Linked DNA regions of Homo sapiens. The protein of the gene in region 5 purifies or fractionates together with the protein of the main gene of each other region. This does not show direct contact. Each region holds a gene or a part of one and is shown on either strand. Other genes may lie near its edges. The genes, in order: PDAP1, HAT1, HPN, HNRNPUL1, MAP2K3, POLD3 and LPAR1.

Region 1 (3,500 bases), on a different chromosome or scaffold from region 5:
TAGCGTTTCACCATGTCAGCCAGGATGGTCTCAATCTCCTGACCTCGTGATCTGCCTGCCTTGGCCTCTCAAAGGGCTGGGATTACAGGCGTGAGCCACTGCGCCCAGCCTCCAGATATGCTTTTAAAAGATTATTTTACTTTGGGAAGCCAAGGTGGGTGGATCACAAGGTCAGGAGATCGAGACCATCCTGGCTAACACAGTGAAACCCCGTCTCTACTAAAAATACAAAAATTAGCCAGGTGTGGTGGCAGGCGCCTGTAGTCCCAGCTACTTGGGAGGCTGAGGCAGGAGAATGGCGTGAACCCGGGAGGCGGAGTGCAGTGAGCCAAGACTATGCCACTGCACTCCAGCCTGGGCGACAGAGTGAGACTCCGTCTCAAAAAAAAAAAAAAAAGATTATTTTAGCTTCTTCATGGAGAGTGAATGATAGGATGTTGAGAGTAAGAGCAGTGTTCAGATCAGAAATCCTGGGCCGGGTGTGGTGGCTCACACCTGTAATCCCAGCACTTTGGGAGGCCAAGGCGGGCGGATCACCTGAGGTCGAGATTTCGAGACCAGCCTGACCAACATGGAGAAAACCTGTCTCTACTAAAAATACAAAATTAGTCGGGGGTGGTGGTTCATGCCTGTAATCCCAAATACTCAGGCTGAGGCAGGAGAATTGCTTGAACCCAGGAGACCGAGGTTGTGGTGAGCCGAGATTGTGCCATTGCCCTCCAGCCTGGGCAAGAAGAGGGAAACTCTGTCTCAAAAGAAAAAAAATCGTGGCTTGCCCTAGGATGGTGACAATGGCAGTGGAGAAGAGTGGACAAATTTAAGCTGTATTTGGGGGTTGCTGAAGGAACGACGAATCAAGGATATGCTTAGGATTGCAGGGAGGGTCCGGTTGGGTAAAGGATGAATCTCGAGTTCTGTCTTGGACATGTTAAGTTTACAGTGCCAGGCATCTGAGTGGAGGTGTAAGTGTGCAGCTGGACTGGAAGTGTGTGGAGGGAGCTCTGTGGAGTGGAAGCTGTCTCCCTGCCCCCTTAAGGAGAATTGATGGAATTGACAGGGCCTGAAACTTTGACCAAACCTGCTGCATTGAGAACACACCCCCTTCTTCTGGAACTTCTGCAGGGGAGGTGGAAGGTGCAGATTCCAGGTTTTTGGGCCAGCGTCCCAAACCTGTAGAGTGTGTGATCCAGTAGCTTATTCTTGGGTTACAAGTCCAGTCCATCAGCTAAGGTGGGTGGGAATTGGAATTAGTCATGACAGCACACACTTGGCCCACCCTGCCCTGGGGATTCCAGCCCAGCGCTTTTTGCAAGAAGAATCAGGCATGGGATTCCATGGAAAACTGCTTTTGGAAGCCGAGCTTGAAGTAGGGGAGTAGTGCTGTGTGAGTGCTTGCAAGTCGGGGTAGGGCGCACCTCTCATCTACCACCTACTTCCTGGTTGACTTGGGCAAGTTATTCGACCCCGAGCAGCCGTTCTGTGGGCTCTTCCCAGGCTGATGAAGATGCTCCAGAGAGCTATACCCACTGTGAGACTTGGGCTGAGCACTACGTGGGCTGGGGTGGAGCAGGAGTTTGTCCTCATCCAGATGGGCTGTTGAGAGATGGCAGGAGTGGCCCTCAGGGGCTCCACAGGACCTGAACTCCAACAACCAGCTTCTTGCCCTGTTCTAGCAAAAGCGCAAAGGCGTTGAAGGGCTCATCGACATCGAGAACCCCAACCGGGTGGCACAGACAACCAAAAAGGTCACACAACTGGATCTGGACGGGCCAAAGGAGCTTTCGAGGAGAGAACGGTAACATCACTGGCTGGGCCTTGTGTCACGGGGAATACAGGCCAGCAGTTGGCCTGTGGGATGCTAAGGTCCCCAGCTGGCTGGGAGCTGTGGCTGTTTATTTCTGTCTCATTCCCCAATGGCCCTCCAGTAGCCTTTAAAAAGCCACACAGAATTTGTTTTCACCAATTGATACATGATATCAGGGGAAATAGGACAACAGGCTCAGACCTGAGCATAACACTTGAGGTAATGGTGCAGGATACAGAGGGTTGCCCTCCATTCCCCTCTTCCAGAGCACCACACCCTGGGGAGACTTCCCTTACCCCACTGATCTGACCATTCCTGACCTGCATCCATCTGTAATGTCGTGGCCATGGGGACTGGAAGGGGGCTGCGAGCCTGTGCCGGCCAGAAGGCAGTCCAGCCCAGCGCAGCTCAGCCAGCTGTCCCAGGCCTCTGCAAGTCCTGTGTGAAAATGAAGCTGTAAATATCTTCCTCAAGAGTCGTATGAGGATCAAGATCATGTACTGAAGTGCCTGGCACAGGATCAGTCCTTGACTGGTGCCCTGACTTTTGGCAGCCACCAGGTGACCTCAAGGGCCTTACAAGAGGTTGAAGCCTGCTAGTTTCTCTCCTGACTGGGAATTTAGGATAATGGCTGAGGGGTGTGTCTGTGAAAGCCTCGTGGGGAAGGCCATGAGCTTGGGTGTGATTGCAGCTGCTAAGGACCCTTCTGTCCCCCTTCAGTAGCTTCCTCTTGGCATTGACTTCAAAAACCCAGCAACCTGGGTGTTCTGCCACTGTGGTATTCTGCCATTGGCAGCTGTGCAGCCTTCGATAAGGCTGTGCCTTTCTGGGCATCAGTGTCCTCTCCAGTAAAAGGGATCCTGTTGCTCCCTCCTTCTGTCCTTTGGGGTTGCAGAGACACCCTGCCTGGCATTTTGCTTTCACTGAAGGGCCCTGCAGAGTCTTTGGGCTGCCTTAGTCATCATTCCTGAGGCTCAGCTTAGAGGCTTCTGAGTGTGGCACATCCCTCCTGAGCTAGGATCTGCGGTTCGCCAGGTATTATCTCCTCAGCTCTGTAGTGAGGCATCTGCTCTTCCCACTCGGGAGTCCCTCTCCCTCCCCTCTAGCTAGCTCCCATGCCTGGTTTCTCATTACTCCCCAGTTCTGTGTACCTTGAAGGCCTCTGGGAGGCCGAGTCTCTCTCCCAGCCTCCTGCCAGGCAGGGCCCTCCCCTCCTCCAGCACTTGGCTCTTCCAGGAACCCAGTGCAAATAGGCCCTCCGATCTCATCCTGAAGGGCATCCACTCCAGTTCAGAATCTCAAGCTTGGGAAGATCCTCAAAAGGAAGCTAATGACCCTCACCACTGACTCTACTTAGGGGGTTCATTCCTGACACTTTGTCCCATGGGAGCCCAGCAATTATTCCCATCTCCCTACTGATGGGGGCTGTCCCCTTGGGGGGCAGCACCGTGCACATCTGAGCTGCTCTAAGAATGGGCCATGTGGTGTTGACCTGAGACTGGGTGTGTCTGTTTCCCACTGTGGTCCTCATCCTATGCCCTGTGGCTGCTTCCTCCACTTCTTCATTCCTTTTTTTGTTTGTATTTTTTAGAGATAGGATTTCACTCTGTCACCCAGGCTGGAGTGCAGTGGTGCAATTGTAGCTCACTGCAGCCTTGAACTTCTGGGCTCAAGCAATCCGCCTGCCTCAGCCTCC
Region 2 (3,500 bases), on a different chromosome or scaffold from region 5:
TAGTTGCAGTAGTTTTTTGGTTAGAATTTTCCACATACAGGATCACATTGTCTGTAAATAAAGACATTTTTACCTCTTCCTTTGCAGTCAGATGCATTTTCTTTCTTTTTCTTACCCGATTGCTTAGCTGAGAACTCCAATATAATGGTGACTGGCAATGGTGAAAGCAGACATCTATGCCTTGCTCCCAGTTTTAGAGGGAAAGCATTTGGTCTTTCACCATTGTGGATGATGTTAGCTATAGCTTTCATATGTGTTAATTATGAAATTGAGGCAGTTCCCTTCTATTTCTAGATAGTTGATTATTGAGCGTTTTTATCATGAATTGATGTTGGATTTTGTCAAACGCTTTGTTCTGCATGTATTGAATTTTTCTCATTTATTTTGTTAACATGGTATATTACATTAATTGATTTTTTTTGGATGTTAAACCAACTTTGCATTTCTGATATAAATCCCATTTAGTTCTGGTATGTAATTCATTTTATATATTGCCAGATTTGGTTTGCTAATATTTGTTGAGGACATTTGTATCTACATTCATGAGGGATATTGATTTGTAGTTTTTGTCTTAGATCCTTAGTGTCAGCATAACTCTGGCCTCATAGAATGAGTTGGAAAGTGTTTCCTCTATTTTCTTTCTTTTTTTTTTTTTTTTAATGGAGATGGAGTCTCACTCTGTTGCCCAGGCAGGAGTGCAGTGGTACCACCTTGGCTCACTGCAACCTCTGCCTCCCAGGTTCAAGCGATTCTTCTGCCTCAGCCTCCCAAGTAGCTGGGACTACAGGCCTGCGCCACCACTCATGGCTAATTTTTATATTTTTAGTAGAGATGGAGTTTCACCATGTTGGCCAGGCTGGTCTCAAACTCCTGACCTCAGGTGATCCGCCCGCCTCAGCCTTCCAAAGTGCTGGGATTACAGGTGTGAGCCACTGTGCCTGGCCTGTTTCCTCTATTTTCTAGAATAGTTTGTGAAGGATCATCGTTATGTCTTCTTCAGGTTGTTTCATGGAATTTACCAGTAAAGCCATCTGGTTGTAGACTTGTCTTTGTGGGAAGATTTTTAGTTGGTAATTAAATGTCTCTGTTATAGTCAGTTCACATAGTCATTTACTTTTTGAGTCATTTTGGTAATTTCTTTCTAAAAGCTGTCTGTTTCATCTAAATTGTCTCATTTGTTGGCATAAAGTTCATGGCATATTCCCTTTTAATTCTTGTGATTTTTGTAAAGTTGGTAGGAATATCCCTTCTTTCATGCCTGATTTTGGTAAATGTTGTTTTCTCTCTTTTTTTTCAGTCATTCTAACTAAAAGTTTGTCAATTCATCGATCATTTCAAAGAACCAACTTTGTGTTTATGTGAACTTGTCTATTTTTGTTTTCTTTTTCATTGATTTCTACTCTATTATTATTATTGCTTCTTATTACTTTGGGTTTAATTTGCCCTTCCTTATCTAGTTAAGAGTGACTCTTAGGTTATATTGATTTGATGTCTTTTTTCTTTTCTTCTTTTAGACAGAGTCTCGCTCTGTCACCCAGGCTGGAGTGCAGTGGTAGAACCTCCACCTCCCAGGCTCAAGCGATTCTCAGGCCTCAGCCTCCTGAGCAGCCTAGCATATATGTTGAGATTGCAAAAGATGAAGAAATTATATTGAGTATCAGGGAAATGTTAATATTATTCTGCTTTATTTATTTAGCGGAAGATCCATCCAAAAGCTATGTGAAATTACGAGACTTTGTGCTTGTGAAGCTTTGTCAAGATTTGCCCTGTTTTTCCCGGGAAAAATTAATGCAAGGATTCAATGAAGATATGGTGATAGAGGCACAACAGAAGTTCAAAATAAATAAGGTATTTTTATTCTGTAGGAGGAAAACAGATTTAAATTACAAACAAATTTTTGAAGTGTATACCTTAACTAAAATATTATAAAGACATTAAGAATACATGTGTGGGAACTAGCAATGGTTAACAGTACAGCTTTGAAGCCAAATTGCCTGAGTTCAAATCTAGCTCCAACACTTGCTCTGTGATTTATGGCAATTTAATTTACCTCGTGCCTCAGTTTCCTCATTAATAAAATGGGAAGATAATAGGTGTTATTGCTATATTAAGCATAACAAGCAGAGGAAAGATGGATAATAGGATCTTATTTTTACTCTTTAAAGTAGTTGTACCCCTGGAGACATTATTGGTGGGAAGAATGGTTGAAGTAAAACACGTATTTCATTTTATATACTTTTATATATTTATTTAAATTTTAAAGTGGTAAATGTCTTAAGATAGGTACAGAAAAAATAAATATGGAAGTTCAGAGAAGAAAGTTTATTACATTTATGTAAGCAAGGAAATCAGTGGTTATTTCATAGAAAGGATGGCATTTGATATAAACCTTGAAGAATGAGTAGGATTTGGATTATGAAAGTATGTGAGATGGGCTGGGAGTGGTGGCTCACGCCTGTAATCCCAGCACTTTGGGAGGCCGAGGCGGACAGATCATGAGGTCAGGACATTGACACCATCCTGGCTAACATGGTGAAACCCCACCTCTACTAAAAATACAAAAAAGCTGGTCATGGTGGCATGCGCCTGTAGTCCCAGCTACTCGGTAGGCTGAGGCAGGAGAATTGCTTGAACCTGGGGAGGCGGAGGTTGCAGTGAGCTGAGATGGTGCCACTGCACTCCAGCCTGGGCGACCGAGCGAGACTCCATCTCAAAAAAAAAAGAAATTTGTGTAGGCCGGGCGAGGTGGCTCACGCCTGTAATCCCAGCACTTTGGGTGGATCACGAGGTCAGGAGTTCGAGACCAGCCTGTCCAATATGGTGAAACCATGTCTCTACTACAAATACGAAAATTAGCTGGGCGTGGTGGCGCGTGCCTGTAATCCCAGCTACTCAGGAGGCTGAGGCAGAAGAATCGCTTAAACCTGGGAGGCGGAGGTTGCAGTGAGCCGAGATCATGCCACTACACTCCAGCCTGGGCAACAGAGAGAGACTTCATCTTAAAAAAAAAAAAAAGAAAAGAAATTTGTTTAATAGCTCAGCTTTTAAAAGAACAGGCATATGAATATATATATATATATATATATATATATATATATTTTTTTTTTTTTTTTTTTTTTAATGGTGCTTTCTTAAAAAAAGAATTCAAACTCCCTACCTAGAGCACAAAGAGCCCATGATAATCTGGACCCTGCCTACCTTGCTAGCTTCAGCCTGTTAGTACTTTGCCACATGCTCTGGCTACTTTGCCACATGCTCTGGCTTTACTCATCTTCTAGCCATTTCCCAACTCTGCCACATCCTTCTTCCTTCTGTATTCCTTTACATATTCTGTTCTCTTTACCTGAAATACTCCCTTTTCCTAATTGCCTGGCCAGATAGTACTCATTTTTTCAGGTTCAACTCAGGTTCCCTTCCAGGAAGTCAGAAAATATTACCTTCCCAACCTATCCATACCCCAACTCCCTGCCCAAATAAATACATAAGTGAAACAACATCAA
Region 3 (4,270 bases), on a different chromosome or scaffold from region 5:
CCCCCTCCCCGGCATCATTTCCCCTCCCGCTTCCTCCGGCTGGACCTGGGGTCCCCCCTCCCTGTAATGCACTCCTGCCCCGGCCCAACCTCGCCCTCTCTCACCAGCCTTGAACTGTGGCCACCTAGAAAGGGGCCCATTCAGCCTCGTCTCTTTACAGAAGTAGTTTTGTTCATGAAATAAAGACTCTTGGACTTGATGCATAGTTTCGATTGTGAGCCCCGTCACCTTCCCCCCATTCCCGTCCCCGAATCTTCGAGCCCGCTTTCCAGGGACCCTACCTGAGGGCCCACAGGTGAAGCCACTTAGTGCCTGATCTGTGTCGGGGTTGGGGGAGCCATGGGCTCAGGGGTGAGGGAGAGTGGAACGGAGCCAGGAAGGGAGGGGGTGCCGTGGAGGGAAGAGAATCGAGGCTGATGCTGGGGTGCAGGGGTGGCATGGGGTGTGTGGTGTGCCCAGCAGTGTGAGTCTCTGGAGAGGTGGGCGCTGGGGAGAAGGAGAGGGAAGGAGAGACGGGTATGGATGGAAAGGCAGAGGAAGCCAGGCTAAACCAGCGTGTCCCAATGAGGGGCCCTGGGCTGAGTGGAGGAAATGGGTGCGGTGGAGGTGGGTTTGGCTGGGCACAGCGGGCACGTGTGGGTAAGCGGGTGGGGCCGGTTGTGCGGGTGGCCTATCTGGGGCAAGCAGCCGAGGCCGACTGTGTCCGGCGTGTGGTTGAGCACGGGCAGGTGTCTGGCGGTGACCCTGCACGTCTGGTGTTTACCTGGCCCTGGGTCTGACGTGGGCCGCGCCTGGCTGCTGGCGGGACAGTGTGTTATCTGCCTGCGGACGCTTCCGGCCACTTGGCCTGGGCCTCTGCCCTTAGCGCTGTGTTTTCCCGGCCAAGCCCCCCATCCCCCCTATCTAGTGCTAGGACTTTCTGGCTCCAGAGGTCACCGCGGCCGGGCGGAGGCTGCCAAAGCAAACCAGCCCCGTGACTTGTAGGAAGCCAGCGGGGGAGGGGCCGGGGCAGGATGAGCAGGGCAGGCGGGAGAGGCTGGGGCTGGGGTTGGGGCCCAGGAATTGGGCAGGGAATTAGGCAGAGGTGCAGCAAGTGGCGGGCACAGCCAGGACCTGGGGCTGGAGGACGCAGAAAGGGCGGGGGGAAGGGTTCGCTGGGTGAGGGTGGAGTGGGCTTAGGGCAGCTGGGGCCCTCCATCTGATCTCTTCTGGTCAGACCCCCACCCTTCAGCCTGCACTTTCTCCCTAAACCCCCAGCCTCCGGCCAGGCCTGTCCCTGTTCCCACATCCCCGCAGACAGGCACACCTGGGTCCCCCTGGAGGTCCAAGGCAAGCCCCGTAGCTGGGCCCGCCTGGTCCAGCCCCCACAAGCCCGGCCCCATCAGCCAGGTGGCCTCCAGTGCTGCCAATCGAATGGTCCGGCCCCTCCCCGCCCCTTCACCCGCCCCTCGCCCAGCCCCCTCCTCCTCAGGTGAGGCAGCCTGGCCTAGCAGGCCCCACGCCACCGCCTCTGCCTCCAGGCCGCCCGCTGCTGCGGGGCCACCATGCTCCTGCCCAGGCCTGGAGACTGACCCGACCCCGGCACTACCTCGAGGCTCCGCCCCCACCTGCTGGACCCCAGGGTAAGGACAAGGGCCCCCAGACTCACAGTTCCAGCCCTGAGGACAGGGGTTCCCTCATCCCCCCACCCAGCCTAATGCCCACCTCCTAATAGAGGGGTTCCTGGGGACCTGAAGAGGGGGCACTATGACGTCCCCCCAAGCACCTAGGTGTTCTGTCCTGCTCTTCCTTCAGACTCAGCCGTTGGACCCCAGTCCTTTCCTCCCCAGACCCAGGAGTTCCAGCCCTCAGGCCCCTCCTCCCTCATACTAGGGAGTCCTGGCCCCCAAATTCCTCCTTTCCCAAGACTTATGATTTCAGGTCCTCAGCTGTCTCCTCCCTCAAACCGGGATCCTCAGTCCCCTGCTCCACCAGGCTCAGGCATGGGGGTCCCCATCCCTGCAAATCCAGGCGTCCCCCCGCTGCTGGTCAGACACTGACCCCATCCTTGAACCCAGCCCAATCTGCGTCCGTGATCACGGCGTGCTCTGGCCAAGGCCCAGTCCCTACAGCCTGCCTGGATGGACGCCTGGGACTGGGGGCGCCAGGACTGGGCTGGGCTGGGCTCCCCCAGGCCCTGCCTCCCCGTCCATCTCCTCACAGGTCCCACCCTGGCCCAGGAGGTCAGCCAGGGAATCATTAACAAGAGGCAGTGACATGGCGCAGAAGGAGGGTGAGTCCCCTTCCCTGAGCCCCAGCTTTGGCTCTGCCTGGCGCCCCGCCCTCTGTGCTCTTTTCTCTACCCTCTACTCTTCGGAGCCCCCTCTCTCTGGGCACCCCTCCCAGATGCATCCCCACCCCTGTTAGTCCTCCTCCACCTGATTAACTATTAACCACATTTTCTGTGCAGCTGTGCCACCACCAGCCTCCCTTCTACCCTATGTGACCTTCCTGGCGTGCTGCCTCAGTTTCCCCTCATCCCCCAGTGATTTCTCAGCTAACTCTGGACTTGTCCTCTGCTGGGGCTGAGGCGGGGAAGCTGTAGCTGTCATGGTTAAGGACACAGATTTGGAGTGAAACACACAGGCTTGCATTTGAATTTGCTCTTGCCATCTTTTTTGCTGTGTGATCTGGTGCAAGTGACATTATTCTTAGGGCTTTGGTCTCCCTCTGGGTCAAGCATGGATACCAGTCCTCCCTCTGTGAGGTTGCTGAGTGCATGACACACACCAGGCACTGGTCTGGGGCTCTGCATATAAGACGCATGCCATCAAGCAGAGCTGTCATGACAGAGGTTGGCAAACTCGGAGTCCCAGAGACCCAGGACCCCCACCGATCCCAGACATTCCTCCACCTCCTGGCTCTGTGGGCAAAAGAGCAGAGGGAGGACTTTGGACTGGGCCTGGATGGATGGAGAGGGGAGAGACGGCAGAGAAACCACCATAAGGATGAGAGAGAGAGACTGCGTCATGGAGTTGCTGGCCCTTGGGAGTCTCTGGGCAGCCCCCAGCTAGCCTGGCTTCCTTTCTACCTCTCACACATGGGACCCAGCTGGAGGGGCGCATGGAGGGGCGTCCTGTTCTTTCTGCCTTCCCCTAGCTGGGGCTGACTCCCTCTCTTCTTCCGCAACCAGGATAGCCGGGCTCAGTCCTGGGCAGTAGCACTTTCTAGCTGTGTGGCCCTGGGCAGACGGCGTGTTCTCCCTGGGCCTCCATTCTCTCATCTGTGAAATGGAGAGGGTGACAGTGCATGTCCAACAGCGTGGGGCGAGGCCTGAAATGCCAGGATGGGCAGGAAGCACTGAGCGTGTTGGCTGAAATGATTAGTTCAGATCTCTGGCCTCCTCGGGTCTCGGCACAGCTGGCAATTCAGACCCCAAACCAATCAGCTGCAGTCCAGAGGGAACCCAGGCTCCCAGTTACTCAGGAGAAGGCATTGCACCCTAGCCGAGCAGGTGGATGACAGAATCCAGCTCCTTGGGGACAATCTCTTTCCTGGAGCTGCCGGAAGGACAGCCCCAGGGCTTGGGCCCATGGGTGAATGAGCCAGGGAAGAAAAGCAGAAAATGCCCGAATGGACAGAGATGGCCTGGGTACAAAGAGAAACAGACACAAAGTGGGCTCTGGTGCCTCCCTGGCAGCTCCGGGCTGGTCTTGGAGGGGAGTCCTGCTGTCAGGGCTAGGGGTGTGGAGGTCGAACCTGGACACAGATGCTGAAGGGTTCCGATTCTGCACTTACTTGCCGGGTGACCCGGGTTTGGTGGCTGCCGGACTTTGGGCCTCCTTTTCTCATCTGTAAACTGGGGGTGATGGCAATGGCGCCTTCCTCGTGAACAGCTGCAAGGATTTAAGTAAGGATGCTGTGCAGGACTGGACGGGGTTAGGGTAGGGCGGTGCGTCCGTGTGTGATTCAGAGAGCCGTTGTGGCTGCAGCGGCTGCTGTTGTTGGTGTCACTGTTATTGCTGCTGGCTTCTTGGTGCTGCCTGGAAACTTGGAATTGGAGGAGGTGATACTGGAGTTGCAATTCCAAGGATGCCAGGCAGAGGGAAGAGCAAGGCTCTTGCTCTTCTCTGGGAAGCTGGGAGGTGACACAGCACTGGTGTGCACGTAGCCAATTGTGGTATTTCTGGAGGTGAAGCTGGAAGTTGAGCTGGGTGGGAGAAGAGGTGTGCAAGCTGGACCAGGCAGGGGTGGGACTGTTTTGGGGAAGAGCTGGCCAATTCCTTGCAGT
Region 4 (2,958 bases), on a different chromosome or scaffold from region 5:
TTGGATACCCAGGGCAAGCTAAAGGAGTTGTTCTTGTTCTATTGTGATTCTCATTTTATAAAAAAGAAAACTGAGATTTCAAGAAGTGCCGTGTACCTTGCTCCCTGGGGGTCTCAGAGCTGGGGTTAGAGTCCACATCACAGCCCTGGGGCTTGCCCTTCATCCTGCCCTACCATGGCATGGAGCTGGCTCTCCTCCTTCTCAGCCCACAAACAATGTCCACTAGGCAAGGGAAGGGCCCCTGTGGGCCAACCACTTAAAAAGGCCCTTTTTCCATCCCAGCATTTCACATCTGCAGATTTCCTCTATTTCACAGAGCTTTGGCTTTTTTCCCTCCACTTTCCAGCCGAGTTACAGCCAGCCACCCTACAACCAGGGAGGTTACAGCCAGGGCTACACAGCCCCACCGCCTCCACCTCCACCACCACCTGCCTACAACTATGGGAGCTACGGCGGTTACAACCCGGCCCCCTATACCCCACCGCCACCCCCCACTGCACAGACCTACCCTCAGCCCAGCTATAACCAGTATCAGCAGGTAGGTGCCAGACTGGGGGCCAACTGGATGGAGAGACTTCCATGGGCCCCTCCTGGGTGTGTATTCCCAGACTTAAGTCCCTGCTTATCCCTAAAAAGACAGCCTGCTGGCCTCGGCCTGGCGTTCATCTGGTGCAGCCATTCCATTTGGTCAACACTTCTGCACTGGTTGCTAGGTAATTGGTATCCTAGCCCCCTCCACAGTCTAGCAAGTGAAGGGGAAGGGCTGGCCTAAGTACCAGGGGCCTCAGAGTCCTCTTTCAGCACCATAGACAGGGGGCTCCAAATCCTGCTGCAGGTTGGTGCCCAGGCCCCCATACCTGTTACTAAATCTTTTGACTATGATATCTAGCTATACCCAAAAGGCACTGGGTTGACAAGCTGAGACCTGGGCTTCAGTCCCTAACTGCCTACCTGTGTGGTGTCAGGTCTTTCCAAGGTGCCTTGATTTCTCTGTCAGGGGACCTGTGTTCAACTGTTGTCACTGCAGCTGTCTCTGCCCTAGGTGAGGGTGGGGCTGGTGGGGAGGCTAAATGTGTGGTGGATGCAGGACAACTTGGTGTTCTTGGTTTCTTTCCCCAGTATGCCCAGCAGTGGAACCAGTACTATCAGAACCAGGGCCAGTGGCCGCCATACTACGGGAACTACGACTACGGGAGCTACTCCGGGAACACACAGGGTGGCACAAGTACACAGTAGCCAGTGTGACCCAGAGGCTCCCGGAGGCCCCTGCCGGCTTCCTCCACCAGCGCCTGCCTCGGCCCCTCCTCTGCCCCCGCCAGATCCCGTGGTGCTGGGGATGGGGTCATCCCAGGGCTGCCTCCCTCCAGCCCACTGCCTCCCCTCTGAGGGGCTTCCTTCCCCTCCATAGGGCCAGGCATTTTTTTCTGGATTCAAACAGGCAACAATGACCTTTTATTTTCTGTTTGTCCCCACCTCCCCAGCCTTCCACCTCCTGTTCTTCCTACCTTCTTCCTTTTTGACTAAATAATCCCCACCTCCCTTGATCATACAGTGAGGCTACAGTGACTGAGGGGAGAATCCCCTCCTGTTCACTCTCCCAACCCTGCTCCAGCCCCTCAGCTTCCCAGACCCTCATGCAGTTGGTTGTAAATTCTCCCAGGAGCTGTTTTACTGTCTACTTTTCAGGATTAAAAAAAAAATCAAAACTTAAAAAAAAAAAAGTTTAAAAAGCAAAATGGGGAGGGGGAGGAAGCAGTGACTTTTTTTTGGTAATTATGCGCTTTTTTTTAATTTTTAGAATTTGTCTTTTTACTGTGGGTGGGCTGTTGATATTTCATCAAGATAAGCATTTCTTTCCTGAGTTCAGGTGACTGAGGAAGAGCCACAAAACAAAACACAACAAAACCAAACCACAGAATCATCTTTAACCCAACTTTTTATACGATGCCCCAGTTCCCCATAACTTTGCACACAAGCTTCTGTGTTCAGTTGAATTGTAACTGCTTTTTGTATTTGGAGAGAGTGACTATTGAACTTGAAACCTTTTATTCCGGGCGTCTTGGTAGTTTCTGGTGGGATTCAGTGGGTGAGAGGGAAGAAGGGGAGGTTGGGGGGCTCCTTCCCTTCAGAACTTGAAGTTTCTCCCACTGCCTCCTCTCCAGTGGTCTCCCAGGTGCCAGACCCAAAAGCTTTTCCTACAGTGATACCCTTTATTTTTACTTCCCCTTGACTCATATGTTTTAACATGATTTTAACAAACTGCACTTATTAAGAAATGTGTTTGCCCTGTTTTGTTTGGTTTCGTTTTGTTTTCTTTGAATAAATGACATGGCACCTCCTAGCAGGAAGGAAGCAGGGTTGAAACCCTGAAGTGTTACTGCAGTTGGCCGTTAATTGGGGTGGGGGCCTCTTTAAAGGGAAATTATTTACTCATTCATTAAACAACTTAACTGAGGGATTCATGTGCCTGGCCCCGATTTTGGTGCTAAAAATGCACGCTTAAACAAGGGTCCCTGGTTTAAAATCCACTAGTTCATTTTTAAAGTGCTTCTCTTGTTCTCTACCTCTCACAGTCTAAAATCCCTCCAGGAGTTTTTGAGTAAAGGACATGGAACAGGCCTCTAGGTGGAGGGATGGGTGGGACTGATGGGGCAGAGACCAGGGCTGGTTTGTTTGGCATCATCACTGGGCATCCACAGACCACCTGCCTCAGGCCTGGCCTGTGTGCAGCACGGAGGACAGTTCCTGCCTGTTCTGTGTTTGGGGCTCATGGGGATTCCAGGAGCTTCATGTTTCAGCCAGTGTGTGTGAGCCACCTGCTGTGTTCTTCAGCTGTCCTGGACAGTGCTGGGGACATAGTATGGCCACGGCAGTCCTGGACCCCGTTCTCACAGAGCTCCCACTCCAGAGAGAACAAAGACCTGCCAGCACCAAGTGGTCAGCTGTGAGAGCCTGGGG
Region 5 (3,500 bases):
TCCAGCCTGGGCAATAGAGAGAGAATCGTCTCAAAAATAAATACAATACAATCAATACAATAGAATACAATACAATAGAATACAATACAATAGAATACAATACAATAGAATACAATAGAATACAGTACAATACAATACAACACAACACAACACAACACAACACAACACGTAGTGATAACAGTGAAGCACAGATGGCGTTTGTTCAGGTTTGTTTTCCGTTCTGCAGGAGCAGCAGCACTGGCCTGTCGACAGTGCAGGTGGCTGGCAATGGCCTTGCTGACCTCGAGCCGGGCCCACGTGGGGACCTTTGGAGCACAGCCTACGATCCTGGTGCAAGGAATGTCCCATTCTTCTGATGCTCTGGGAGGGCTGAGCATCACTTGTGGGTCCCCCTGCCCTGTCATGGCCTCTTAAAGCCTGAGCATGGGGCCTGCCCCACAGTGTGGGAGCCTGGGGCCAGAGTCCCACCGATCTGACCCCTTTTGTGCTGGGGATTTTGTGTGCATGGACTTGTTTGGTCTTCACGGCTACCCAGCAACCTGGGTGTGTTGTCATCAACCCCATCTTAGGAGTGAGTAAACTGAGGCCTGGTGGGATAGTGACCTGCTCAAGGTCACGAAGGACTGTCCTGGGAGCATGGCTTTGTCTTTACAACTCCGGACCCTTGCTCATCCTTTCCCAGAGGTCATGGCCCCTTCACCCGTTCATAGGACGTCAAAGGAGGAAACCGAGGCTTGCACAGAGAGGGAGTGTGGCTCGCCCCCAGGCTGGCACGGGCCGACGCTGTGGTGGTTTCTCCACTGAGGTGCGGGGAAGGCAGGAGCTGGGACCCAGGCTGGGGGCCTGACTCTGCTGCTGCCCTGGTGCGTCACCTCAGGCGTGTCCTGGGGCCCCTGGTGTCAGCATCTGCACTGGACAGTCTCTGGGGCACCCTCCAGCCTGAGCAGCCTGCTGCGGGGGCTGTACTGTGCTCAGTGAGCCTGGCTGCCCCTTCAGACAGAGGAGAGTGCTGGGGCTGGCTTCAAGCAGGCCTCTTTGTTTCTTCTTTTCTTTAAATTGCCTGCACTTGAGTAGCCTTTATCACACAGTGCAGGAATCTCAAAGGGACAAAAAGGCAGTCTCTTGTTTCTCCTCGGAATACTCTGCACACTCCAGCATTTTCTTTCCTTCTTCTTCTCATTTTTTTTTTTTGAGACAGTGTCTTGCTCTGTTGCCCAGTGGCACAGTCATGGCTCACCACAGCTCAGACGATCCTCCCACCTCAGCCTCCCAGGTAACTGGGACTACAGGCACGCACCACCACGCCCACTACATTTTTGTTTTGTTTTATTTTTTGTAGAGACAGGATTTTGTCATGTTGCCCAGGCTAGTATTGAACTCCTGAGCTCAAGGAATCCACCCACCTTGGCCTCCCAAAGTGCTGGGATTACAGGCATGTGCTAATTTTTGTATTTTTAGTAGAGACAGGGTTTCACCATGTTGGCCAGGCTGGTCTCAAACTCCTGACCTCAAGTAATCCTTCTGCCTTGGCCTCCCAAAGTGCTGGGATTACAGGCGTGAGCCACCTCACATGGTCTGACCGGCATTTTCTTTCTCACACTGCTGTACTCCTGCTGCTCTTGGCTCTTCCTGTCCCTGGGAGGCCACTCCTCGCATCCTGCTGAGGACCTGCAGGATCCTCACCAATTCCATGTGCCAGCCTTTTGATTCTATAAACCCTGGGCCTCAGTTTCCCCATCTGCAGCATGGAGATCACATTAGTACCTGCCTCAAGGGGTTGCTGAGAGGATCAAATGAGATGTAATGAAAGAAATTTGCATAGGCCAGGCACGCAGAGGACACCCCAGGACACCCCAGCACATAGTAGGTATTCACTAAATGTTAGTGGGTGTTGTAGTGTGGGGGTAAGCTGCTCAACGTGGAATTTCTGGATGCAGAAGAATGGGCATTTTGATGGCCATGGGGCATGGAGGACCCAGACCGGTGAGGTCTGGCCATGGGAGGCCAGGCTGCACCCTGATGCCCGCAGCCACCTGCTGTGGGCCCCCTGTCTTTCACGTGCCTTGTGCCCCAGCCACTCTGCCCGGGGTCCTCCCGTGTTGCCTCCTTCCCTCTCCAGCGAGGCCCGTGCCTCTGGCCCTTCCCTACGTCCTTCCCTCCAAAGCACAAGTGGTTCCATGTTGCAGGCGGGCCATGGTTGTCTCTGCTGGGCTGTTGGCATTGGGCGGGAGGACCCTCTGGCAGCCATGGTTGCCCCTGTGCAGCTGAGCATCTGGCCTCCCCACCGGATGTTAGGGGTGCTCCCGAGCCATGCTGGTCCGGAGCATCACCGGGGAGGGGGCGCTGCCAGGTGGATAGTCTGGGGATCCCCCGTTCTCTGCAGGTGAGGAAGTCCCTGTAGGGTAGAGAGGTGGGGAGGGTGTGAGGCCCTGGAGGCCAGGCCCTGGCCAGGTGGCCTTGCACAGCCGGGCAGAGGCAGGGCAGGGCTGTGGAGGGCAGAGCCTTGGTCACTCCTCCTCACCCTAGCCTGCTGCACACCTACAAGGTGAGGATAGAGAAGGTAGGGCCTGCAGTGGCCGTGTATGAGGCCAGATGGCACAGCCTGGGCCTGGCATGGAGCAGGCACTTGGTTAGATGGGAGAACCTTCCCCTTGTCCTGCATCCTCTCCAGAGCCCAGGACAGGGGCCCCAGAACCTCAGGGCAAGGGGCCCTGCCTGAAGGTGCATGGCCACCCCCTGCTGCCCACAGGTGCTTGGCAGTGGCGTCTGCAGTACCTCAGGACCTCTGATGGCACCTGTCCTGGGGAGAGGGGCCAGTGTCTGGCAGGTCGCAGCCAAACACATCCATCCACACCGTCGAGGTACATCTGCCCACGCAAAAGCCTGTGCCCACTTCTCGGGGCCTCAGTTTCCCCCGTGCCATGGAGCGCATTGGCCTTGTTGCTGTCCCTCTGAGGGACCCTGGGGAATAGAGGTGGCCTGGGGCAGGGCGGCGCCTCTTGCTGCTCACATCTCCCAGCCCTTGTGGCTCCTTCCCTGGCAGGCCCAGAACTTCTGCAGTAGAACAGGGACCTCCTGGAACATCCGGAAGTCAGGTGAGGGCAGTGAACTAGGAGCAGGGATTACTTCTGTTGTCAGAAACCTGGTGATGCTCCTGCATGTGGCATGGTGTGGGGCTGACTTTATGAGTGGAGGCGGAGCAGGGGCTGCAAGGAGGGGTTGTCATCTTGCCCCTGTGGGTGACCCTTAGAGGGTCACACAGCTTGGTCTCCCCAGGCCCAGGGTAGAGGGAGCAGCCGAAGTGGGGGCCCTGCCCTCAGGCTGTTGCTGTTTGGACGTTGGAGCCAGACAGACCTGCCTTTATGGCCACTCCTCACCAGACGCCCACCGTGTGGCCTCTCTAAGTCACCTCTTCTCCCGCATGCTTGATACAACAGATAAGTGAACCTCCCCTACTCCCTTGTGGAGTCACTGAGAGGGTGGACAGGGGTGGTCTGGGG
Region 6 (3,500 bases), on a different chromosome or scaffold from region 5:
CTGGTAGCTCAGTTTGGGGCAGTAGCAGTGCAGGTAGTAATTAGTGGATGAATTCTGGGTATATTTTAAAGTGAGAAACAACAGGATTTGCTGATATACTGTGTTGAAGTGTAAGAGAAAGAAGAGTCAAAAATGACTGGACTAGGCAACCCAAAGAAGGAAGCTGTAATTCACTGAGATGGGGGAAAAGCAGGAAAAGCAGGTGTTGAGGGGAGAAGTCAGGAGTTAGGTTTGGGGGCATATTAAATTTGCAATGCCTATTAGTCACTGTTGATGTTGAAAAGGTTGCTAGAGAGTCTTGTCTGAAACATAATTCCTTGTTATAAAGCTTTCAGTAGCGCCAGGTGTGGTGGCTCACGCCTGTAATCCCAGCTCTCAGGGAGGCAGAAGCAGGAGGATAGCTTGAGCACAGGAGTTCAAGACCTGACTGGGCAATATAGCGAGACCCCATGTTCCACAAAAAGGGAGGAGAAAAAAAAAAGTGTAACAAAGCTTTCAGTAGCTTCTCATCCCCTAAGGATCAACTTCAAATCTCTAGCAATGACAGGTAAGACCCTTCTTGTTCTGGGCTCTGTATCTCTGACCATTCCCCATCATACCTACACTATCTTCATCCTTAATGAAACATTCTACAATTCTCTTTATTCCTTTGTATATGCCCTTCCTTCTGCCTAGAAGGCTCTTCTCAGGCCTCAACTACCTAATTTCTCATCAAGACAGCAGCTCAGTTGTCACCTCCTCTATGAAGTATGAACCCTTCCCCAACACCATCAGGTCACCAGGGCACATCTTTTTTTTAAGAGATAGAGTCTCACTCTGTCGCCCAGGCTGAAGTGCAGTGGCGCAGCTCTCTATAACCTTGAATTCCTGGGCTCAAGCCATCCTCCTTCCTCAGCCTCCTAAGTAAACAGGACCACAGGTGCATGCTACCATGCCTGGTTATTATTTTTTCTTCCTGGTAGAAACAGGCTTTTGTTATATCTCCCAGCCTGACCTCGAACCCCTGCGCTCAAGTGATCCTCCTGCCTTGGCCTCTCAAAATGCTAGGATTACAGGAGTGAGCCATCATGCCTAGACAATGAGCTTCTGCCATCCAAGCTCTAACAAATTTTATCCCATATCTATTATTACAGCACATATCACCCTGCCTTCTAACTATTTATTTTACATATGACGCATCCCCTCTAGACTGTTAACACCTTGAGTACAAAAAGGTGCCCTAGTCAGGATTTTTGCTGATTCCTCCTCTTTGCCCTCTAATGTTTCTTTCCATTACAACAATTGTGTTAGAAGGATAAATGAGCTAACAGATCCACAAACATTTTGGTTTATTGATGCTAGTTTGGACCATGCTAAAGGAAGACATGATAGGCAGGTACCATGCCCAAAATGCTTGCAAGCTTGCTGGCCAAATGCACTATCTTTTATCCACAACTAATAGTCCTGCCCATATCATCAGTCATTGTCCTCTATGCACTTGTCTCCCCAAATTGACCCCAGTTCTTCTCTCTTATATTAACAGAAAATGCAAAGCAAACTCTTATTTTAAAAAACAATTCTTGTGGCTGGGTGCGGTGGCTCACACCTGTAATCCCAGCACTTTGGGAGGCCAAGGCAGGCAGATCACCTGAGGTTGAGAGTTTGAGACCAGCCTAACCAACATAGAGAAACCTCGTCTCTATTAAAAATACAAAATTAGCCGGGCACATGGTGGCGCATGCCCGTAATCCCAGTTACTCGGGAGGCTGAAGCAGGAGAATCGCTTGAACCTGGGAGACAGAGGTTGCAGTGAGCTGGGATCGTGCCATCACACTCCAGCCTGGACAACAAGAGCAAAATCCTATCTCAAAAAAAAAAAAAAAAAAAAAAAAGGAAAGAATTCCTGCCTACTTTTTGAGTCTTTAAAACATGTTTTATCTAATTTAAGCCAAACTTTTCTGTTTTTTTGGAGATAGAGTATCGCTCTGTCGCCAGGCTGGAGTGCAGTGGCGCGATCTCAGCTCACTGCCATGTCTGCCTCCTAGGTTCAAGTGATTTTCCTGCCTCAGCCTCCCAAGTAGCTGGGACTACAGGCACACGCTGGCTAATTTTTTGTATTTTAGTATTTTTGTATTTCAGTAGCGCCAGGTGTGGTGGCTCACGCCTGTAATCCCAGCTCTCAGGGAGGCAGAAGCAGGAGGATAGCTTGAGCCTGGTCTCAAACTCCTGAGCTCAGGCAATCTGCCCTCCTCGGCCTCCCAAAGTGCTAGGATTACAGGCATTAGTCACCGCGCCCAGCCTAAGCCAAATATTTTTTAATAAACAAAATATAAAATATTCTTAAATAAGAATGACAACAGGCTGGGCACAGTGGCTCATGCCTGTAATCCCAGCATGTTAGGAGGCCGAGGCAGGCGGATCACGAGGTCAGGAGTTCAAGACCAGCTGGCCAGCATGGTGAAACCCCATCTCTACTAAACATACAAGAAGTTAGCCAGGCGTGGTGGCATGTGCCTGTAGTCCCAGCTACTCGGGAGGCTGAGGCAGGAGAATTGCTTGAATTCTAAAGGCGGAGGTTGCAGTGAGCCGAGATTGCACCATTGTACTCCAGCCTGGGCAACAGAGCTGTCTCAAAAAAAAAAAAAATAATAATAATAACAACATATATGACTTCTTACAAGATACACTTCCTACACATGATTAATTATAGCTTCCCATTTTAATTCATTAATCTTCCCTCCTGATCAGTTCCACCCATAATGTTCCCCAGGATGAGTACAGTGTATTGCCCATACCGCTTTCTCTAACCCAACTTAATTATTTCACAGCATTTTCACAGTCTGAAATTATCTTGTTTAAATCAACCAGGGGAGGGACCCTGTCTGTCAGGTTTACTGTTGTATGACATAGCCTGAAATAATGCTAAAAAAAAACAGTATGAGGCCAGGCACGGTGGCTCAAGCCTGTACTCCCAGCACTTTGGGAGGCCGAGGTGGGCAGATTGCGAGGTCAGGGGTTCAAGACCAGCCTGGCCAAGATCGTGAAACCCTGTCTCTACTAAAAATACAAAAATTAGCCAGGCGTGGTGGCAGGTGCTGTAATCCCCACTATTCAGGAGGCTGAAGCAGGAGAATCGTTTGAACCTGGAAGGTGGAGGTTGCAGTGAGCTGAGTTCCGCCACTGCACTCCGGCCTAGGCAACAGAGCGAGACTCCGTCAAAAAAAAAAAAAAAAATTACTTGAGAGAAATGTTTGTGAAAATACTATAGTGAGGCCGAGCATGGTGGCTCATGCCTATAATCTCAGCACTTTGGGAGGCTGAGGCAGGAGGACTGCTTGAGTCCAGACGTTCAAGACCAGCCTGGTCAACACAGCAAGATCCCAACTCTACGAAATAAAAAAATCAGCTAGCATGGTGGCATGTACCTGTGGTCCCAGCTACTCTCAGGAGACTGAGGTGGGAGTATCCCTTAAGCCTAGGAGGTCATGGCTAAAGGAAGCCATGTTTGAACTACTGCACTC
Region 7 (3,500 bases), on a different chromosome or scaffold from region 5:
AAGTTCTTTTAGAATGCCTTCAAACTCAGGCATATGTATCTTGTTATTCTTCCATTTTAGGAACATTTTCTCCAAGGTAGTCTCAATACTTTGAGGTGAGTTGGCCTTTCCCTTTTAAGGAAGGAGACCACAGAGCCCGGTAATCTCCTTTTCATTTTATATGCTTGAAATATTTTGCTAGGATTTATCTGTTTTAAAGTCTAGAGATAGACATAGCTGTGTTTTATCTGTAGCCCTGCCTTGCTTCCATCTCATTTTCCCTATTCTTACTTTTAACCCAACTTGTGTTTGAGATTCTTTGCTCAGTATATAGTTTGCTTTCTAGAATAATTCAAACCTAGTGCCTGTAGAAAGTCAGACTTATTTTTTATTTATTTGAGATAGGGTCTTGGAGTGCAGTGGCATAATCCTGGCTCACGGCAGCTTTGACCTCCTGGGCTCAAGCTATTCTCCCACTACAGCCTTCCAAGTAGCTGGGACCGCAGGTGTGTGCCGCTATGCCTGGCTATTTTTTTTCTTTTTCTTTCTTTCTTCTTCTTTCTTTTTCTTTTCTTTTTTTTTTTCTTTTTTTTTTTTTAAAGAAATGGGCTCTCACTACATTACCCAGGCTGTTCTCAAACTCCTGGGCTCAAGGGATCCTCTCACCTTGGCCTCCCAAAGTGTTGGGATGACAGCTGTGAGCCACCGCATCTGGCTAATACTTATTTTGAAGTCACCCTGTCATGGTGCTTTGCTTCACTAATGTATTTCACTTATGATCTTGAAGTCACTCAGGGATACAAACACAATAAAATGCATCCCAACCAGGAGAGGGTAGCTGCATTCATTTACAAAATTTTTTTTTGCAATGATTCAAACACTATAGATGTGTCTAAAGTAAATGTAAAAATCTCTCTCTGCCACTTTAACCTTACCCATCTGATATCAGTTTGTTCCATAGCCTTCCATAGTTGTCCTTTTACTTATACAAACCTACAAAAATTAATATTTATGTATATTTATGTGTGTGTGGGATAAGTGTGGATATGTTTATACATACTCATATGTATGTTTGTGTGTGTATCTGTCTGTGCCTGCCTCCATTTTCTTTTGCTTTAGAGAGGCTATACTTGAGGCTGCCATCAAGAGTGAGAAGTTTGAAGCTGGAAGAGCCTGCATGGGCCCTTCTTGAACTGGTGCAGCATGTGCAGCATGACATCACTCAAGAGTTCTTGTCAGAGTGATAATGAATGTCTGGCTATTGTAAACGGGAATAAGAAAACTATTTCCAGCTGTGTGACAACCAAGACGACAAAAAGCATTGCAGAGAATATTATTGCCACAAGGACCCTGCTTCATCTGGGTCTCAGACGACGGGAGGAGGGGCATTTTGGAGCACGTGTTTGGCATCTGTGAACCTTTTGTTAGGTAGAAAACAAGGCCTGAATGAAAGGCCTTTCAACCACTTCTGGAGCAGAGAAGATAGGTAGAGTTACTCATTATAGGCAGGTTTCATTGTAGGAGTATTCAGTGAGGACCCCCGCCTTGGAAGTCTGTAATCAGCAGATGATAAGGATGGTGTGTTCTTACTAAGAGAATAACACAACTGAAACAGAATTGCCTTTTGTTAAGGGGATGCTTTGCCTTCTTGGACTACGATTGTGGGGAGAAGGATTATTGTCAACTAAGTGAGGCATTCATTCTGTACCCACTATTTATTGTAGTTCCACAGAGAACTGCTTGCTTTACTTTCTGACTAGGCACAGAAAAGTAAAGGTTCAAAGGCTAGGGCAAGATGACTGACTTTTCCAGATTTAGCACAATCTGTTCTCTGGTCACTTTGAGACGCTGTCAGTTTAGTTTCATGCAGCTGATATCTTGGAGAACTTCTGTGTCCTTACGTTTGGCTGAGGACACTAAATTTTTTTTTTTTTTTTTTTTTTTTTGAGGCAGAGCCTCACTTTATTGCCCAGGCTGGAGTGCAATGGCACGATCTTGGCTCACTGCCTCCTGGGTTCAAGCAATTCTCTTGCCTCAGCCTTCCAAGTAGCTGGGACCACAGGCGTGCACCACCATGCCTGGCTAATTTTTTTTGTATTTTTTGGTAGAGATGGGGTTTCACTGTGTTGGCCAGGCTGGTCTTGAACTCCTGGCCTCAAGTGAACCACCCGCCTCGGCCTCTCAAAGTGCTGGGTTTACAGGCCCAAGCCACCGTGCCTGGCCTGAGGACACTAAAATTAAAAAAAAATTAAGAAAGTACGGTCCCCGCTCTTGAGTAGCTCATGAACATGGAGCGATATGGACTCAAATGATTAAGATCAGGTAGGTAGTGATGAATACGGTAAACCAAGTTTCAAACAAAGAGCTGTCTGCATATCTGAGGATGGAGAGGGTAAGTCAGCCTTAGAGGAGGGAAATGACTTGCAGCAGGATGCCAGCCTCAATGGTCTGTGGAGCTCATTCCATGCAGAAGAGTAATGAGGAAGACCCAGTGAGTGACAGGCTTGGGGAGGAGTGCCTGAAATTGACGGTTTGTGGCAGGAAGTGGTGGGACCAATCTCGAAGCTTGTGGAGGTAGAAGGGTACTGGAGACTACTGTGGACAAAAAAGGGCATGTTGATGCCATTACCAGACAGGACACGAGAGCATGATGATTGTTGCAGTGAGGCTTGTTAGTTTTAGACATGTCTAAAACCATGCAGGCAGAGATTTTCAGCTGGTGGCTGGCAATTTGAGTTTGAAGTTTAGCTGAGAAGTCAGTTGGCAGTATTCAGGCATAATTGCTAAATGTAGAAGTAAATGCCAGTAAAATGTGTGTGATAAGCTGGAGAGCACTTTTAGAGTGAAAAGATTGATATATTTTAACAAGGACAAGGCTTATTTCAATTCTTTAGGTTATTTTTCTTTAGCAGATTAAAGTAGTTTTATCGGTTATCAAGCATTTGTTGAGCGTTTACTATGGCTTCTCTTGATAGGTGGTCCTGGGGAGATAGGAAGGAAATGGTGCAAATTTCAACAATACCCACTGGGGTGAACAAAAAATCCCTGAAACACCCCATTCCAGCTATTGTTATCTGGAAAAAAATCCTTACAATAATTAGATGGTGATTTGACGTCTGGGGGAAGTTGCAGATATAGTTTTAATTTACTGTAGGACTAGTGGCAGTGAGTCTCATATTGCTGTCATATAAAAGGTAAACCTTCCAGAAGAACTTTGGAAATTTCAGTAGCCTAAAGACCACGCTTTGAGAAACTCGTAAAGGTTTGTCATAGAGGTTTTAAAAGTCTGATCAAATAATTTTAAGCTTTAGTTGCCTACTAAAAAGTAGGATGCAGTACAAGTTTGTCCTTTACTTGGTAAAAAAAAAAAAAAGTCTTTTTCTAATTAAGAATTTATTTTCACCTTAGATAATTTTATTGGCATGCCTTTTTGCATGCAAGATAGAAAAAAGACAAGTTTATTCTTAGTTTTCTTTTTTCTAAGCCATTATGATTCTTTTAAATTATACTCATTTCAATTT

The links.
Region 1: the proteins of MAP2K3 (region 5) and PDAP1 purify together in Homo sapiens (affinity purification with mass spectrometry; one large-scale study listed by BioGRID and IntAct). This does not show direct contact.
Region 2: the proteins of MAP2K3 (region 5) and HAT1 purify together in Homo sapiens (affinity purification with mass spectrometry; one large-scale study listed by BioGRID and IntAct). This does not show direct contact.
Region 3: the proteins of MAP2K3 (region 5) and HPN purify together in Homo sapiens (co-immunoprecipitation; one large-scale study listed by IntAct). This does not show direct contact.
Region 4: the proteins of MAP2K3 (region 5) and HNRNPUL1 purify together in Homo sapiens (affinity purification with mass spectrometry, with the first as the bait; one large-scale study listed by BioGRID). This does not show direct contact.
Region 6: the proteins of MAP2K3 (region 5) and POLD3 purify together in Homo sapiens (tandem affinity purification; one large-scale study listed by IntAct). This does not show direct contact.
Region 7: the proteins of MAP2K3 (region 5) and LPAR1 purify together in Homo sapiens (co-immunoprecipitation; one large-scale study listed by IntAct). This does not show direct contact.

What each region holds. Positions count from the first base shown.
Region 1 is NC_000007.14:99,398,598-99,402,097, reverse strand, and holds part of PDAP1 (28 kDa heat- and acid-stable phosphoprotein), read left to right. Parts: intron 1-1,673; coding exon 1,674-1,795; intron 1,796-3,500. UniProt on the Homo sapiens protein: Enhances PDGFA-stimulated cell growth in fibroblasts, but inhibits the mitogenic effect of PDGFB.
Region 2 is NC_000002.12:171,974,461-171,977,960, forward strand, and holds part of HAT1 (histone acetyltransferase type B catalytic subunit), read left to right. Parts: intron 1-1,696; coding exon 1,697-1,848; intron 1,849-2,231; exon of another isoform or gene 2,232-2,998; intron 2,999-3,500. UniProt on the Homo sapiens protein: Histone acetyltransferase that plays a role in different biological processes including cell cycle progression, glucose metabolism, histone production or DNA damage repair. Coordinates histone production and acetylation via H4 promoter binding.
Region 3 is NC_000019.10:35,040,251-35,044,520, forward strand, and holds the start of HPN (serine protease hepsin precursor), read left to right. Parts: upstream 1-1,470; 5' UTR 1,471-1,622; exon of another isoform or gene 1,623-2,202; 5' UTR 2,203-2,256; coding exon 2,257-2,272; intron 2,273-4,270. UniProt on the Homo sapiens protein: Serine protease that cleaves extracellular substrates, and contributes to the proteolytic processing of growth factors, such as HGF and MST1/HGFL. Plays a role in cell growth and maintenance of cell morphology.
Region 4 is NC_000019.10:41,305,330-41,308,287, forward strand, and holds the end of HNRNPUL1 (heterogeneous nuclear ribonucleoprotein U-like protein 1), read left to right. Parts: intron 1-316; coding exon of another isoform or gene 317-346; coding exon 347-538; intron 539-1,119; coding exon 1,120-1,236; 3' UTR 1,237-2,458; downstream 2,459-2,958.
Region 5 is NC_000017.11:21,291,211-21,294,710, forward strand, and holds part of MAP2K3 (dual specificity mitogen-activated protein kinase kinase 3), read left to right. Parts: intron 1-3,500. UniProt on the Homo sapiens protein: Dual specificity kinase. Is activated by cytokines and environmental stress in vivo. Catalyzes the concomitant phosphorylation of a threonine and a tyrosine residue in the MAP kinase p38.
Region 6 is NC_000011.10:74,599,082-74,602,581, reverse strand, and holds part of POLD3 (DNA polymerase delta subunit 3), read right to left. Parts: intron 1-3,500. UniProt on the Homo sapiens protein: Accessory component of both the DNA polymerase delta complex and the DNA polymerase zeta complex.
Region 7 is NC_000009.12:111,028,471-111,031,970, reverse strand, and holds part of LPAR1 (lysophosphatidic acid receptor 1), read left to right. Parts: intron 1-3,500.